3 separate regions of the Homo sapiens genome follow, and all the other regions are linked to region 3. Evidence: fine-mapped expression QTL. A gene starts in region 3. Each other region holds a variant in brackets. All regions are shown on one strand. Distances are from middle to middle.

Region 1 (5,432 bases), 140 kb before region 3:
AGCTGGGGGAAAACTACTTGCATCTAGTGGGTAGAGGCCAGGAATGCTGCAAAATGTCGTCTAATACACAGCCTGGTTCCCAACAACAGAATTTTCCAGTCCCAAATGCCAATAGTAGCATTGCAGCTGAGAAACCCTGCTCCAAATGACCAGTTCACTTCCTGTCTCTAACCCTGTTCATTATTGCTTCATCCTCTCTGGCCTCCTTTCAGGTCACAGAGCATGCCAATTCCTTCCCTCCTTGGGGCCTCTGCAATCATCATTCTCACTGCTTGAAACACTCTGCTCCTTGCAGGGTTGGCTCTTTGTCATCTCTCAAGTTTCACCAAGAAATCCCACCCCCACATGCCCCTAATCCCTGTCAGTTTCATTAACCTGATTATGTCTTCATCACCAGCTGACATTTGCTTGCTTTACCTTGTACATCTGGATCTTGTTCCCCTCAAATATAAGCAGGATGAGTACCTATCACTAGGCTCCAAGGACAAGTGCCAGCCCTGGAACATAGTAGGTGCTCAACAAATAATTAGGGAAGGAAAGGAATTAAGGGAGGAAAGAATGCCTTAGACTTTTTTTTTTTTTTTTTGAGACAGCGTCTCTCTCTGTCACCAGGCTGGAGTGCAGTGGCACGATCTCGGATCACTGCAACCTCCGCCTCCCCGGTTCAGGCGATTCTCCTGCCTCAGCCTCCCGAGTAGCTGGGACTACAGGTGCATGCCACCACGCCCGGCTAATTTTTGTATTTTTAGTAGAGACGGGGTTTCACCATGTTGGCCAGATGGTCTCGATATCTTGACCTCGTGATCCACCTGCCTCAGCCTCCCAAAGTGCTGGGATTACAGGCGTGAGCCACCACGCTCGGCCAGACATTTTTAATGAATGTCACTCTCCCCATGTGTTTCGTTTCCAAACACACACACACACACACACACACACACACACACACACCCCACCAGCTCAAATACGTGTTTATAGGATCCGTTTCCAAAAAGTCACCAAGAGAGTAGTTCCTGTACACTAACCCTGCCCCCAGAATGCTGAGTTGTTTTCTATTGAACTTAGAACACGAACCCAGCCTTTTTCTCAACGACATCCTTCTCCCAAGACACAATGTGGCCCCTCATGCCAACGTGTGTGAACTCTACTCCCCACCCCTTAATCTTCCTAACATGCAGAGATCCCTTAGATTTAAAGTGCAACCCCTGCTATGAATCAATAACTTTAGAAGGACTTACCACAGAAAGAGATTAGCATGAGAAAGCTAAGCAGATATCATCGCAACAGTTCACTTTAAAAATACCACCACTCCTTCTATCTGTGACTACAGATGCCTCCTCACAGAAGTGGGGCAGAGATCATCTAGCCAGAACCAACTAGCAGGTCATCTGCGCCTCCCCCGTCCACGCCAATTCCATTCCCCGCTCTCTCCTCATGTGCTAAGTTCTCCCACGTTCTTACGGTGTCAGCGAAGAATTTATACATGCCTCTAAAGTGACTCACTGCATGAGTATTACTGTTTATTTTTAGCACCTTGTTGTTTTGCCTATAAATCCCTCTAAATGTCATTTCTCACTGCCTGGCCCCTTTCAGGACAATATGGCATGCTCCTCGAAATGTCCTCTCACTGGGTCCCTCTGTTCTCAGTTCTGCCCACAAGGCCACTGCACATGGCTGCCCACGATGGAACTGACCTGCCTCTGCCATCTCTAAATCTGGAATAAATCCCCTTCCTGAGTAAATATCCATCCATCAAGTGTGCAGGATAACTATTTCCTCCAGAACACCCACTGTTCAGGAAGACAGATGGAGATCTCTGAGATGGGGCCACCACGGAAACCATCCACAAGGGAAACAGCTCTGACCCTGGACTCCCTTGCTGCCTCCATTCAAAGCACCCTGTCTGAGAATTAAGTTGTGATGAGAGATCATCTGCCTTGCAGGTGCAGAGGCAGCAGAAGAGCCACCTGTGTTTTTCCTCTGCCTGGCACGTGGGTGATTGCAATACTCTGGATGTGCACCTTCCACAGCCGTCGCTTGGATTCACTGGCCTAGTAGAAGACAGTGCCGAGAATGGGTGGCAAAGACCCATGTTTCCCATGACACTTGTGAAAATGAGGGGCAGAAAGATCCTCTGAAGTACCACTCAGTCTACCCAGAAAAGAGTAGAATCTGTCCAGTTTAATTTTTGATCATTTTATGACTAAATAATCTCAAAGTTTAAAAAGGCATGAAAGACCATCTAAACCAATTCTTTTATGGTACCAAGGAGGCAAGGCCCATATTGGGTGAGTACCAGGCCCAGGGCTGCACACATAGGTTATGGCACAGCTGAGTCTGGACTCCAATGCTGTCTTAGCTGATTTTCTGTTGCTATAACCAAATGACTGAGACTGGGTAATTTATAAAGAGAAAACACTTGTTTCTTATAGTTCTGGAGGCTGAGAAATCCAAGGTTGAGGGGCTGCATCTGGCGAGGGCTTTCTTGCTGGAGGGGACTCTGCAGGGAACCCAGGTGGTGCAGGGCATTACATAGCAAGGACTTCATGACAGACAACCAAACTGGCTTTTTTAACAGACCCACTGTTGTGATAACTAACCCACTCCCTCAATTGCCTATTAATCCATTAATCCAATAATGACTCCATCACCCCTCAGATGTCCCACCTCTCAACACTGCCGCATTGTGGATCACATAAACTTTTGCAGGACACATTCAAATCATAGCAGATGCCTTGCCTTCTAGGGTTGATCCTGTAACAACTGCCATGTCATCTTTTCTTTTTCCTCCTGTCCCTTCTTTCTTCATCTTATAAACCATCTATTCCCATTCCACATGTTTCTGCTGGGGGTTAAAAGTCCCTACCTTCCCCCAACTTCCTGGAAACTCTGATTAGTCCAGAGAGTAGTCAAGTGACCCAAATTGAAGTAATGAGATATTTTTTTGAAAATGGATACTGATATATGGATCATGAGAAGTGTATTAGCCAGGGCAAGCTAACTGCTGTAACAAACAACACCAAAATTGTAGTGGCTTAACACTGTAGAGGTCGGTTTTTGTTGGCTTGTTTACTCACTTAATGGCCCAATGTGGGTA[T/C]ATGCTGGTGGCCTTCCACCAAGTCTCCCTGTATCCCCTAAACCATGGAGTCCTCATTGAATCCCCTGCAGCTTCCTGGCAGCTGGGGGAAAGAGACCTGAGGTGAAGACTCCTGGGAGGGAGTGACACGCATCTCTTCTGCCCACCTCTCATTAATCAGAAACCATTGTATGCGCCCACCTAATTGCAAGGAAGGCCAGGAAAAATAGTCTAATTGTGTGCCCAGGAGCAAAAGGAAAGAGTAGGACAAATGACCCAGAGGGAGTTGCCAGGATCCATATTTCCTGCCATGTGGAAAAAGAGCCGCTGGTAGATGAAAACAAAACATAGCAAAGCAAAGATTAAAAATAAATAAATAAATAAATAAATAAATAAAAGATGTGAGAAACGTTATCTGATCCCCTGGATAGGCCATATCTGATGTTGGACCAATTCCTGCACCTATCTCTCAAAGAAAGCATTCTTATGTTTATCAAAACATATTCAGCAGGATAATAATTCAACTGGGACGGCAGATTAGAAATTTTAAAACTTAAATAGTTGTCTGGATTGGCCTACACTTGTGTACAACTTATGCATCCTCTTGGGCCCACCTCTTCCTCCAGCCACTTCTTTCAGAGTCCAGTTCTGCCAGGCTTTGACCAGGCTCTCCCAGGTGCCAGCTGGCAATGCCTCACTTTGGCCCAATGCCTAGAGCCTCTCTCTTCCTGCCTTGGGTTTCTCTGACCCTGCCGCCCAGTTCTTCCATGGGAACTGCCCAGCCATCATGGAGGGGCCACCCAGAGGTACAGGGAGCCAATACACATGGGAATCACCCTTGACCAAGGTGGTTCAGGAGCCAATGGGTAAATGCTCCCCTTTTGCCTCCTACGGGGACAATTCCAAGAGACAGTTGATGGGGCCCTAGTCAGAGGCTCAAATGATAGTTCCCAAGATTCCAGTCCCTCTTTCTGAACTTTTTGCCCTGCTTTCCCAGGTTTTATTTTTATTTGGCAGAAAGCCCCACAGTGTTGAGCACCAGGTGCCCTTCATGGTGGCCGACTCAGTGACACATTCTTGTGTTGACCTCTTTTCCTTCCCTTTCTCACTCTGCTTTGCTTCTTGCCCTGCCCTCTGCATTTACACTTGCTAATAAATTTTACACTCACAATGTTTGGAAGTCTCTGCTTTTGAGGGACCCAGGCAGCTCTATCGCAAGAGAGAAATTTTAATATGATGATATGTGCTGTGATTCTCCTAGAAGAAGTAGTATGCAAAACTTCCCAAAAGTGTCTGACTGGGCCACTCCTTTTTGTTCTTCCCAGAACCTACAGAACTAAAATAAACTGCCCCTCTATTGATTTTGCTTCTTGATTGTAGGGTGTCTGATTCTCTAACTTTTTAGCATCTCCAACCAGTTCACAGCATTGAGGGAGCAGACATTGACCCATTGATAACCCCAATCTACCACACAACAACCGGCACAAAGTTAGACACACAGTAAATACTCAATAAACACTTGCAATTAGGTCAATAGGAGGCTCACTGGTTGAATAGCACTCAAATTTGAGCTATTTTCAATGATCCTTTAAATCAAAATGTTTTCCATTTTTATTTTACTTCATTAGAACAAAGTAAAATATGATCCTTTCAGTCTCTGTAACAGCACACTGATTTTTTCTCTTCTTCCTTTGCTCTCCTTTCTTCTCCCCTTTTCTTCTTTCTCTCTCATTTCCTTTTTTCCCCTCATTTTCTTTCTTCCTTGCTTTGCATCTCTTCCACCATTCTTTATTTTCTGTTTTTTGTTGTTGTTTAAAATTCAGAGGAAAAGACTCCAGGGACAGTGAGTCAGTAAATGAAAATTGTATCGACTCCCATGGTAGAGAAAGTTGTAAACCACTGAGAATTCCAAAATAGAAGTATTTCTTGTGGGAAAATCATCACCATGTCTTCCACTCCCATCGATTATGATGTTAATTTGTCTGTATCATTCTTCAGTGTTTATAATTATCTTAGGCAAAGTATGTTTTAAAGAGTGTCTTTCCTATCTCCCAACTCCCACCTCCCACAAACTGCATTTTATTGGTGGTGCTTGCACAACCCAACGACTGAAACCTCAGTGAGAAAGTAATAAAGTGCTTAGAAGTAATAATTGATGGTCAGCCCATCTTACATTTGGGGGTGTAGTTAAAGGCAGAGTCCTTGTAAGCTCTCCTAATCCCATTTATTAATGGTTAGCAAATTGTGATTATCAATCAAAATCAAAATGTGTGTGCTGTCTCCTTGACCTTTGGGTGGTAGAATTTCTTTTTACTCATTCAACCCCTATTTGTTTATGTGTACCTATCAGGAGTTTTGA
Region 2 (5,432 bases), 690 kb before region 3:
CATTGAATTTTTAATTATCTTCATTCCCATATATTGTGATTGTGGTGGTTAATACTGTGGGTCAACTTTATTTGATTGAAGGATGCAAAGTATTGATCTTGAGCCTGTCTGTGAGGGTGTTGCCAAAGGAGATTAACATTTGAGTCAGTGGGTTGGGAAAGGCATACCCACCCTTAATCTGGGTGGACACAATCTAATCAGCCGCCAGCTCAGCTAGGATAAAAGCAGGCAGAAGAATGTGAAAAGACTAGACTGGCCTAGCTTCCCAGCCTACATCTTTCTTCCGTGCTGGATGCTTCCTGCCCTTGAACAACGGACTCCAAGTTCCTCAGCTTTGGGACTTGGACTGGCTTCTTTGCTCCTCAGCTTGCAGATGGCCTATTGTGGGATCTTGTGATCATGTGAGTTTAATTCTCCTTAATAAACTCCTTAATAAAAAAAAAAAAAAAATATATATATATATATATATATATATATATATATCCCATTACTTCTGTCCCTCTAGAGAACCCTGACTAATACAGTGATATTCAGTTAGGATTTTCAGAAAGTGCAGTGTTTTTTATGATGTATGATAAACCAGGATGAAAGCAATGACTTAGCTGTTGAAAAATAAGACTAACACAACCCTATTTTTTGTTTAATAAATTACATGTATTTTTTCCACTAGTATTATTCTACCTATTTTTCACACCCTATTTGATACAGATAGAAAGCGTATTATTCATTGAGCCTCAGTGTCTGTCATCTCTAATTATATAAAATCAGGTGGTATGTTTGCAGCCAACTCTACAAGCATTTTATTAATCCCCACATTCTTATAATTTCAACTCAAATTATAGATGAGTTCCCCTAAAAATGAATGTCTGGAGTTTAAATAGTGAAATAAAAACATGTGAGCAGTCAACAATCAAGCAATGGGCTTTTTCAGTGTATTAAATAAATATCTAACTCTCCTTAACCTGAAGGGGATTTTTTTGACCTACTGTCATTTTTTATAATGTTTTATACTTCTGTTATATTATAGTAGTACTGTTTATGTTCCTGTAGTTAAATCAGGGTCAGAGTTTCTATTAAAGTGATCTCATTTGATGGAGGTAGGCAAATGACAGTCTTCTAATATACCTATGACATCCGTTGGCTTAAAAAAATATAAGGTTAATATTTAAAAATGCTAGAATTTGATAAATTGGTTGATTATTCTCTTGATGCTTGAAATATTTCATTTAGCAACTATATTTAGAGATTTGTAATATAGCCATGAAATTTGTTCTGAATTACATCTTAAACACCATCTACTACATATAAATATATGTATCTTTTTCTTTTTTTCTGAGAAATGTCCTTAAATGTTTTATGCTATTAACTCAGCTCAATTAATTACTTTAATAACCTCCAAACCACTAGAATATTAAAAATACACATTTCTGAAAGAATGCAATACATTTTACATTGTAGGTAACTAAAACGGAATAAACATGGACTAATGAGATATATTTAAGCAACCATAAAGAGTCAGATATCTCAAAGCTTATGCTGTAACATCATTGGTCTTCCTATGCCCACAGTGTCTCCTTCCTTACAGAAATACTGAGAACAAGTGATTGTACTGAATTGTGTAGACATAGATCAGACTGCGGTGATCCATCCTACAAAACTTAAATTAAATTAAGAAAATAATTATTTACTGCCCTAAGTATATAGCACTGTATTGGGGATGAATGGGAATGCCAACATGAAAACAATACAAACTCTAACAACAAAAAGTCCACCATCTAATGTGTGGTGAAGGGGCTGCATGGAATGATAGTGATGACATAAATGCAGAAATAAAAAATAAAGACTAATTGTACTTAAAAAATGAGGAACATGGGATGCTGTAGATTTTCTGCAGAGATAGTTCATAAGTGTTTAGGAGAATTTACATAAATTCAAATATTTTATGTATCTGTTTCCCTGTTCCTTGGAACCTTGATTAGATTTAGCTCAAATATCTTACAAAATCTACCTTGTCTCTTAATTTATTTGTCAAATATTCTATTACTTATTTTAAGAGCCACAGATATCTATGTCTGTGTATCCACATCTAAATCTAAGTGTAGAATTGCTATATTTTGGATAATTTATTTATATATTCATTCCAGTTCATTAATTTTCTCTTCAACAGTGTCTAATCTACTATAAATCTATTCATTGAGTTTTTAAATTGCAAATATTATAGTTGTCATCTACAGAAGTTCTATTTGTCACTTGGTAATGAATTTTTCCCATTTTCCCATTTTAAATATCTAACATAATTTCTTTAAAATGTCAAATACTAGATAATTTGCAAACTGTGTCTAATAGTTAAATATCTGAAACTTCACAAATCAATGTTAGCTCTATGTGATATTTCTTCTGCTCTCTCTATGATGCCTTTTTCCTTAACTGTTTTGTGGGTTCTTAGCTGTAACCTGCTCATTTTTCTTGACACATTATCTATAAGAATTCTTAGAAGACTGGAATAAAGGGGAATCTTCCAGAGTGATATATATTTGCCTCTTCCAGTAACCTGGGTTGTATTCACAGACTGAGACTCCTTTAAGCTTATTCTTAAATTACCCAAGTAGTAAGAATGTGGCTGAGTTTCTGCATGAATCTTAGCTTGTAATTACAAATTATCAGGGCATTTTTTTTTCTTAGTTTCAACCCCAAAGTAAAATATATAAGAAAAAATCATGTAACA[A/C]ATATCAGAACTCCTAATTACATTTATTTTTCTTTTCTAATTTCTATTCTGATATTATTTATATGTCTTAGATCTGAAACTTTCTGTATATTGGCATGTTACTAAGAAAATCAAAGTTTATTACATATAAGAATTAAATGGGGGGGTGGGGTGGAGCCAAGATGGCCAAATAAGAACAGCTCCAGTCTACAGCTCCCAGCATGAGCGAGGCAGAAGATGGGTGATTTCTGCATTTCCAACTGAGGTACTGGGCTCATCTTACTGGGGAGTGTCAGGAACGGGGTGCAGGACTGAGCCAAAGCAGGGCAAGGCATCACCTCACCTGGGAAGCACAAGGGGTCAGGGAATTGCCTTTCCTAGTCAAAGAAAGGGGTGACAGATGGCACCTGGAAAATCGGGTCACTCCCACCCATTACTGCGCTTTTCCAACGGTCTTAGCAAACGGCACACCAGGAGATTATATCCCGTGCCTGGCTCAGAGGGTCCTATGCCCACGGAGCCTCGCTCATCGCTAGCACAGCAGTCTGAGATCAAACTGCAAGGTGGCAGCAAGGCTGTGGGAGGGGCGCCTGCCATTGCTGAGGCTTGAGTAAGTAAACAAAGCTGCTGGGAAGCTCTAACTGGGTGGAGCCCACTGCAGCTCAAGGAGGCCTGCCAGCCTCTGTAGACTCCACCTCTGGGGGTAGGGAATAGCCAAACAAAAGGCAGCAGAATCCTCTGCAGACTTAAATGTCCCTGTCTGACAGCTTTGAAGAGAGTAGTGGTTCTCCCAGCACACAGCTGGAGAACTGAGAATGGACAGACTGCCTCTTGAAGTGGGTCCCTGACCCCCAAGTAGCCTAACTGGGAGGCAGCCCCAGTAGGGGCAGACTGACACCTCACATGGCCGGGTAATCCTCTGAGACAAAAATTCCAGAGGAACGATCAGGCAGCAACATTTGCTGCTCTCCAATATCCGCTGTTCTGCAGCCTCTGCTGCTGATACCCAGGCAAACAGGGTCTGGAGTGGACCTCCAGCAAACTCCAACAGACCTGCAGCTAAGGGTCCTGACTATTAGAAGGAAAACTAACAAATAGAAAGGACATCCACACCAAAACCCCATCTGCACATCACCATCTTCAAAGACCAAAGGTAGATAAAACCACAAAGATGGGGGAAAAACAGAACAGAAAAACTGGAAACTCTAAAAATCAGAGTGCCTCTCCTCCTCCAAAGGAACGCAGCTCCTCACCAGCAATGGAACAAAGCTGGATGGAGAATGACTTTGACGAGTTGAGAGAAGAAGGCTTCAGACGATCAAACTACTCTGAGCTAAAGGAGGAAGTTCAAACCCATGGCAAAGAAGTTAAAAACCTTGAAAAGAAATTAGAGGAATAGCTAACTAGAAGAACCAATGCAGAGAAGTCCTTAAAGGACCTGATGGAGCTGAAAACCAAGGCACGAGAACTACGAGATGAATGCACAAGCCTCAGTAGACGATTCGATCAACTGGAAGAAAGGGTATCAGTGACGGAAGCTCAAATGAATGAAATGAAGTGAGAAGAGAAGTTTAGAGGATAAAGAATAAAAATAAACGAACAAAGCCTCCAAGAAATATGGGGCTATCCAAGAAAAGACCAAATCTACGTCGATTGGTGTACCTGAAAGTGATGGGGAGAATGGAACCAAGTTGGAAAACACTCTGCAGGATATTATCCAGGAGAACTTCCCCACCAATCTAGCAAGGCAGGCCAACATTCAAATTCAGGAAATACAGAGACCGCCACAAAGATACTCCTTGAGGAGAGCAACTCCAAGACACATAATTGTCAGATTCACCAAAGTTGAAATGAAGGAAAAAATATAAAGGGCAGCCAGGGAGAAAGGTCAGGTTACCCACAAAGGGAAGCCCATCAGACTAACAGCTGATCTCTCGGCAGAAACTCTACAAGCCAGAAGAGAGTAGGGGCCAATATTCAACATTCTTAAAGAAAATAATTTTCAACCCAGAATTTCATATCCAGCCAAACTAAGCTTCATAAGTGAAGGAGAAATAAAATACTTTACTGACAAGCAAATGCTGAGAGATTTTGTCACCACCAGGCCTGCCCTAAAAGAGCTCCTGAAGGAAGCACTAAACATGGAAAGGAACAACCAGTACCAGCCACTGCAAAACAAGCCAAATTGTAAAGACCGTCAAGGCTAGGAAGAAACTGCATCAACTAACGAGCAAAATAGCCAGCTAACATCATAATGACAGGATCAAATTCACACATAACAATATTAACCTTAAATGTAAATGGGCTAAGTGCTCCAATTAAAAGACACAGACTGGCAAATTGGATAAAGAGTCAAGCCCCATCAGTGTGCTGTATTCAGGAAACCCATCTAACATGCAGAGACACACATAGGCTCAAAATAAAGGGATGGAGGAAGATCTACCAAGCAAATGGAAAACAAAAAAAGGCAGGGGTTGCAATCCTAGTCTCTGATAAAACAGACTGTAAACCAACAAAGATCAAAAGAGACAAAGAAGGCCATTACATAATGGTAAAGGGATCCATTCAACAAGAAGAGCTAAGTATCCTAAATATATATGCACCCAACACAGGAGCACCCAGATTCATAAAGCAAGTCCTTAGAGACCTACAAAGAGACTTAGACTCCCACACAATAATAATGGGAGACTTTAACACCCCACTGTCAACATTAGACAGATCAATGAGA
Region 3 (5,357 bases):
CCAGCCAAGGCTGGACTCGTGCCCAAGCCTGTTCCTGGGGTGCAGCGGTGGCCATTGCCACCCCGAGACAAAATGTAGTGACCGTTGGGGGCGGTCAGGGTGGAGGGCCCCTTGCCACCCATGCAGATATAGTTGCTTAGCTCCTCCTCACCGCGGGCTGGTGGGGTGTGGCCCAGGGAATCCGGAGTGACACTGCGGAAGGAACTCCGGAAATCGCAGGGACTGGAGCCATACTCATCCGAGGAGATGAAACCGCCATCGCTGGGGGAACCAGACACCGAAGCACTAGATCGCCGTGGGAAGAGACAATCCGAGGTGGAGCCATGGCCACTGGTGCTACTGGACGACAGACTGACCGGGCTGGTGGCCGAAGGCGAGCAGCGGGAAGCCGGCATGGGGATGGAGCGGCTGTGGTTGAGCGGGGGGTGCAGCCGGGCGCTGCCCCGATGCCGGTGGGCGTGGGTTCTGTTGGTGCTGGGACTCACAGGGCTGCCGTCCACCGAGGCTGGGCGGGACATGGTGCCTTCGCCGTCACTGGAGGCGCGGACACGGAAGGAGCCTGGCTTCCCGCCCACCATGCTGGCCGGGGAGGTGGCGGTGATGCTCTCAGTGCGTGATCGGCGGGTCAGCCCCACCTGGCTGGGCGGGGGATTGTTGAGATGGTGCCGGCGCAGGGGGACGCTGATGGGGTTAGAGCAGTTGGACGAGGACTGGCTCTTGCTGCGAGGGCGGAACTCATCACTCATGGCCCGCATGGCCTCCAGGATGGTCTCGTGCATGTTCTGGGCCACCACAGAGTCATCCACCTGCATCCAGAACTCCCCGGGCCCCGTCACGGCAGAACGGCCCACCTCGATGAAGAAGAAGTTTTCCGAGTGGCCACAGCGCCTGATGTTCATCAGCTGCAGCACCACGGCCGCTGCCTCCGAGTTCAGCTTCACGAAGCTGATGGTCTTGCTGGTCAGGCAAAGGCGGTAGATACCAATCAGGTTCTTTGTCTGACCCAGGCCCTTGGGCTTCAGGATCACTTGCCAGACCTCTTTGAATGCGGGTCCTGGGGGCACGTCACCGTAGCTCAAGTCCTCCCCAGCCTCACCAAGGCCGGAGCTGCCGCTGCAGCTGCCCCCACCACCTCCCGCCCCGAGGGCCGCAGCTCCGTCGTGGTGGCCCTTAGCACGGTTGTGCAGCTGTAGGAGAGCCTGGTACCAGCTGTCTTGCTCGGCCTCGCTGTCCGCCGCGATGGCAAAGTGCTCGTCCCGGGTGTAGAGAGCCACCAGGTGCTTGTTCTTGGAGTCAGCCCGCTTGTTGATGTTGAAGCAGCTCTCAAGGGGGATCGAGCGTTTGGGGGCGCTCGACTTGTGCCGCCACTTCTTCTCGTTCTCGTAGTACTCGAGGCGCGCCGGGCCCCCAGCCTCGCTGGCCGCGCGCAGTACGAAGAAGCGTTTGTGCATGCTCTTGGGTTTGCGCAGGTAGCCCACCTTGCGCACGTCCGAGAAGCCATCGCTCTCCGGAGGGCTCGCCATGCTGCCACCGCCACCACCAACGCTGAGCAGAGGGAGGCTCCGAAAAACAACCGGGTGGGGGGCGGAGGCTCCTCGCCGCGGCCCGGCACATGCAAACAGGGCTGGAGGCAGCAGAAACCCCGACTCTGAAATCCACGCCGCCCCCCGCGCCGGGGAGGGGCAGCTGAAGGAGGACGCAGCTGCTGAGCCCAGGAGAGAGCCCGACCGGAGTTTTCGGGCGCTTCACGCCCGGCGGGGAGGCAGTGCGTCCGGGGTGAGGGCAGCCCCGATCCTCCGAGAGCCAAGTCTCCTCTCAGCCGCCGCCGCCACCAGGAAGGAGCGAAGATGCATCTCTCGTCGCCCCGGCTGGAGTCCGGCACAGGGAGGCGACAGTCGGGGGTCCCTGCGGTGCCCCTCCAGGAGCGCGCGCGCGCGCGCGCCTTCCCTCCTGAGTTCCCCTCTGGAAGCAGCGATTCCCGAGGCAAATTAAATATCCTTGGGCAGGGGGAGGCGGGTTGCCAAGTCCCAACGTTGCACGGGGTTCTCCCTCCTCCTTCGCCTCCTCCCACCCCCCAACCGTCCCAGCCGCCACCAGCCGCCCAAATACCAGCTCAGTCGCAGAGACCGCGGCGCTGCGGCTGTTGCTGTTGCTGCTGCTGCTGCTGCTGCTGCTGCCGCCGCCCGCGGGCGCGTCCTCTGCAGCCCCCATCCGGGCCCATCTCGGCGGGTGGAGAAAGTGGCTTTTCCATGCGAAACGATACCGGGCAGCCACTGCAGCTGGGGACCGGCCGGAGGGACAGACTCATCCCTGCCCCTCGCTCCAGGCGGCTGGGGAGGAGGGGAGGGGACAAGGGCGAGAGGGGATGGGGGAGGTTTGGGAAGGGTTCGGGGAAGACGCCTGTTCCTCGGGAGGCGCTGCCGCTGCAGTTACTTCTCCCCTCCTCCCTCCTCCTCCTCCTCCTCGGAGAGTTGCCGAGAGCCCCAACCAAAACAAGCGGCGGCGTCTGGCTCTGCGCGCCGGCCCCCTCCGACCGCGCCGCCGTCTCACTCGGAGGAGAAAAACACGTGACGGAGCCTCCGCGCTCGGCAGCCGGGCAGCCGCCGCCGGGAGGCTCCCGCCCGGGTCTCTACATTCCGGGCCGAGCCCGCCCCGCGCCCGCCCCTCTCCGCCCCCCAGCCGTGCTGCAGCGGCGCCCGCGCCGACCCCGGCGCAGCGCTAGGACAGCGCCCCTGCGCGGCCGCCAGCTCCGGCGCAGCGCCTCCCTACACGCGCGCCAACCGGGGCGCCCCCGGCCCGCAGGAATCCCCGCGGCGGGCGCAGGCGGGGGTGTTTGGGTGGCTACCCGAAAGCACGAGGGGAGTCTGGGAAAACGGGAGGGGGCGAGCTCGGGAAGACGCAGGAGTGAGGGTGGGGGGCCACGGGGGGGCACTGCGGCTACAGAGCCCCGAGTGGGAGGCCGGGGGGAGGCGGGGGCGCCGGAGCTGGGCTGCCTCTTACCTATCAGGTAAGACTGACCCACGGGAGGGAGGTTTCTAGTCAAGGCTGTTTCCCCCAGGAAATTTAAAAGCTAGATTTCGGCTTCAGGGCGATAGGCCATGGTGAGGGGATCTGTATTTTTTAAGGTTTTTCTAAAGGACTTCTGGGCCAGCCTTCCACCTTGGGATCCCCAGATTTGCTGCCGTGAGGTACCTGGAAGGAACAGAGGGACGCCCAAGGGCAGTGACTGGGGGCAGTTATGGTCACTACAAAAGGAGAACAGGGATCCCCAGGAAGTGTCTCACGTCCGGCGCTGTGGAATTAGTTGCTGATCAAGTAGGGAGAAAATGTAAATATCACCTTTTCTCCTGCTCCCCTTGCCCATCCGTGTGACGGGGGGACTCACACCTAAGGCTGAGGGCATGGGGGAGGGGAAATGAGAGGTCCCTTATCATATTCCGAAGTCTATCCGTGACTTTAAAAAGCTGTTAGGGACCTTCAGAGGGTTCATAAGGCCAAAACCCTACTGTGCAAATATTGGCTGAAATGTTTGTTTCACACACAGCTCCCACACCCATTGAACCACCCTATAAGTTTTTAACCTTGACCACAAGGATAACAGGGAGAAAACAAGGATGGTGCCAGCTCAACTGTACAGGAAAATGGTTACTTCATGAGTGGACCAGATCAGCAGCCTGGGTCTACTTGAAGCGCCCCTTTCAGGGTCACCTTGCGGTATCAGTCTCCCCACAAACAAACGCTCCCCAGAGTTTTTTTATTTTTTAAGCCGACCTATAAACAAGCAGTTTGTCCCTGCTTGCTCGCCTGGCACTAAGGACCCACAGAGATGTCACTCGGTTTAATGCTGTCTCATTTTGATGCCTGGCCCGTTTGGGGTTGCCGCCCCTTTACTACGCCGGGACCCTCCTCGGCCTCAGGCTCCCAGGCACTGCAGGATGCTGGCTGGGCACTCAGCAGTCGAGGCGCTGGGCATGCTCAGTGGCTGGGACCCGGCGGGCCGCGGGGGAGCGCGCCTCGGCCCAATGCGGCTGAGGGGCGGAGCGAGTTTCCCGGGGAGGCCTGCTGATTGGTGGGATGGCCTGTTTTTCAAGCCTTGCACTGCAGAGGGAAGGTGGGGGTAGAAGGGTTGAGGGTACCAAGGTAGGTTGCAAAGCGTAGTAAAAAAAGAAAAAGAAGATGATGATGATGAAGGAGAAAAAGAACCATAGGCGCCATTCAGGGGTGTGCGATACGTAAATTAGGGGGATTGGGCATCTGCAGAGGGGCTCCTCCCCACCCAAGCCTGGGAGCCTCTCGTTTCTCCTCTCCCCTTCCTGTTCCCGGTCGTCATGCAGCCTCATCTAAACCTGGTTAATCTATAATTTGAGTACACATGTTGAATTGAAAGCCCTCCCTTCTTTTCCTCTGACAGCTTGGTGATGTGGGCACACGTGCCCACTACAGCAAGGCTATTAATAGCAGATATTTGGAAATGGAAGCGAGGCGGCACTCACAGTGACCGAAATTCTGGGGGTATAGAGTGCCTTACAGGGGGTAGGGCAGGGAGGTGCAGAATAAAGAAGCCTGAAGTTGGTGGAAAAGTGTAACTGTGTGCCTGGTTTTACCCTAGACAAGAAAAAAGAGAGATTATAAAAGGGTTGTTTACTAGTAACAATGTAATCCAGATAAGGCCAAAGGGCTTTTCACAGGTTTGATGTTTAGCGCTGGGATGGGGGTAGTGGAGTAATTAACATTTTGTAAGACAACAAATCAAATCCATGGACATTTACTTTTCAAATGGCCCTGTCCCTACCTCCGTCCCTCCACCCCCCACCCCCCAAAAAAAGCTAAATAAAGGTACTGTACCTCTATGGGGGAAAAATACTCTTTTCTGGAAGGAGGGGAGGGTTGGAAAATTTATTTGCACGTACCTCACAATTATCTTCATAGGAAGGATTTTGATCATAAAAAGCTAATTATGATAATAAACCTTTTAAAAAATATATCTCTCAGTGTTAAAGCATTTCTGCTTTAAAAAACACAATTTCAGTTGCTAAATATTCGATAAAAATTATGAAATAAGCCTCACTGCTGTGACAAATTATGTTCAGACCAATGGGTTTCCTATGGAAGATAATCACTGATCATAGGATATTAGTGCCATTTTTTCTACTTGCTGATGTTTTACTACCAATTTAAAGGTGGTTAATATTTGTTATAATTATACTACAGTAAATTCAATTGTTCTCTACAATTGTTTTATTAATGGGCTAACTGGAAATTCATTTACATTTGGTTCATGTAATATATAGAATAGAAAGAGACGCGTTTGTGGGAACTCACTGAAGTAATGCTGAGCAGGTATGGGTATTATTCTG

Direction of the effects. Positions count from the first base shown, and alleles are read on the strand shown. Sizes are in standard deviations (SD) of each study's normalised expression. Not every link is listed here.
For the expression in thyroid of the gene that starts at base 2,605 in region 3, allele T in region 1 goes with a lower level than allele C (small effect, 0.16 SD a copy in GTEx).

Evidence for each region. PIP is the estimated chance that this variant, and not a neighbour inherited with it, causes the effect. A credible set is the group of variants that fine-mapping cannot tell apart.
Region 1: its variant is the best candidate, but not a certain one, in a credible set for the expression of IRS1 in thyroid (GTEx, PIP 0.73).
Region 2: its variant is the best candidate, but not a certain one, in a credible set for the expression of IRS1 in whole blood (INTERVAL, PIP 0.75).

Annotation. Positions count from the first base shown.
Region 1 is chr2:226,660,564-226,665,995 of GRCh38, forward strand. No RefSeq gene overlaps it. Among named protein-coding and RNA genes, the nearest start is that of MIR5702, 4.5 kb to the left of the region's middle. The variant T/C (reference allele first, on the strand shown) is at 3,095.
Region 2 is chr2:226,104,405-226,109,836 of GRCh38, forward strand. No RefSeq gene overlaps it. Among named protein-coding and RNA genes, the nearest start is that of MIR5702, 550 kb to the right of the region's middle. The variant A/C (reference allele first, on the strand shown) is at 2,726.
Region 3 is chr2:226,797,216-226,802,572 of GRCh38, forward strand. IRS1 (insulin receptor substrate 1) reads right to left here and starts at 2,605. Exons shown (of 2, transcript NM_005544.3): 1 at 1-2,605. The coding sequence starts at 1,523. It also overlaps a transcript of RHBDD1 not described here. RefSeq lists an enhancer at 1-693 and silencers at 1,424-1,473, 2,464-2,883, 2,904-2,973, 3,934-4,143.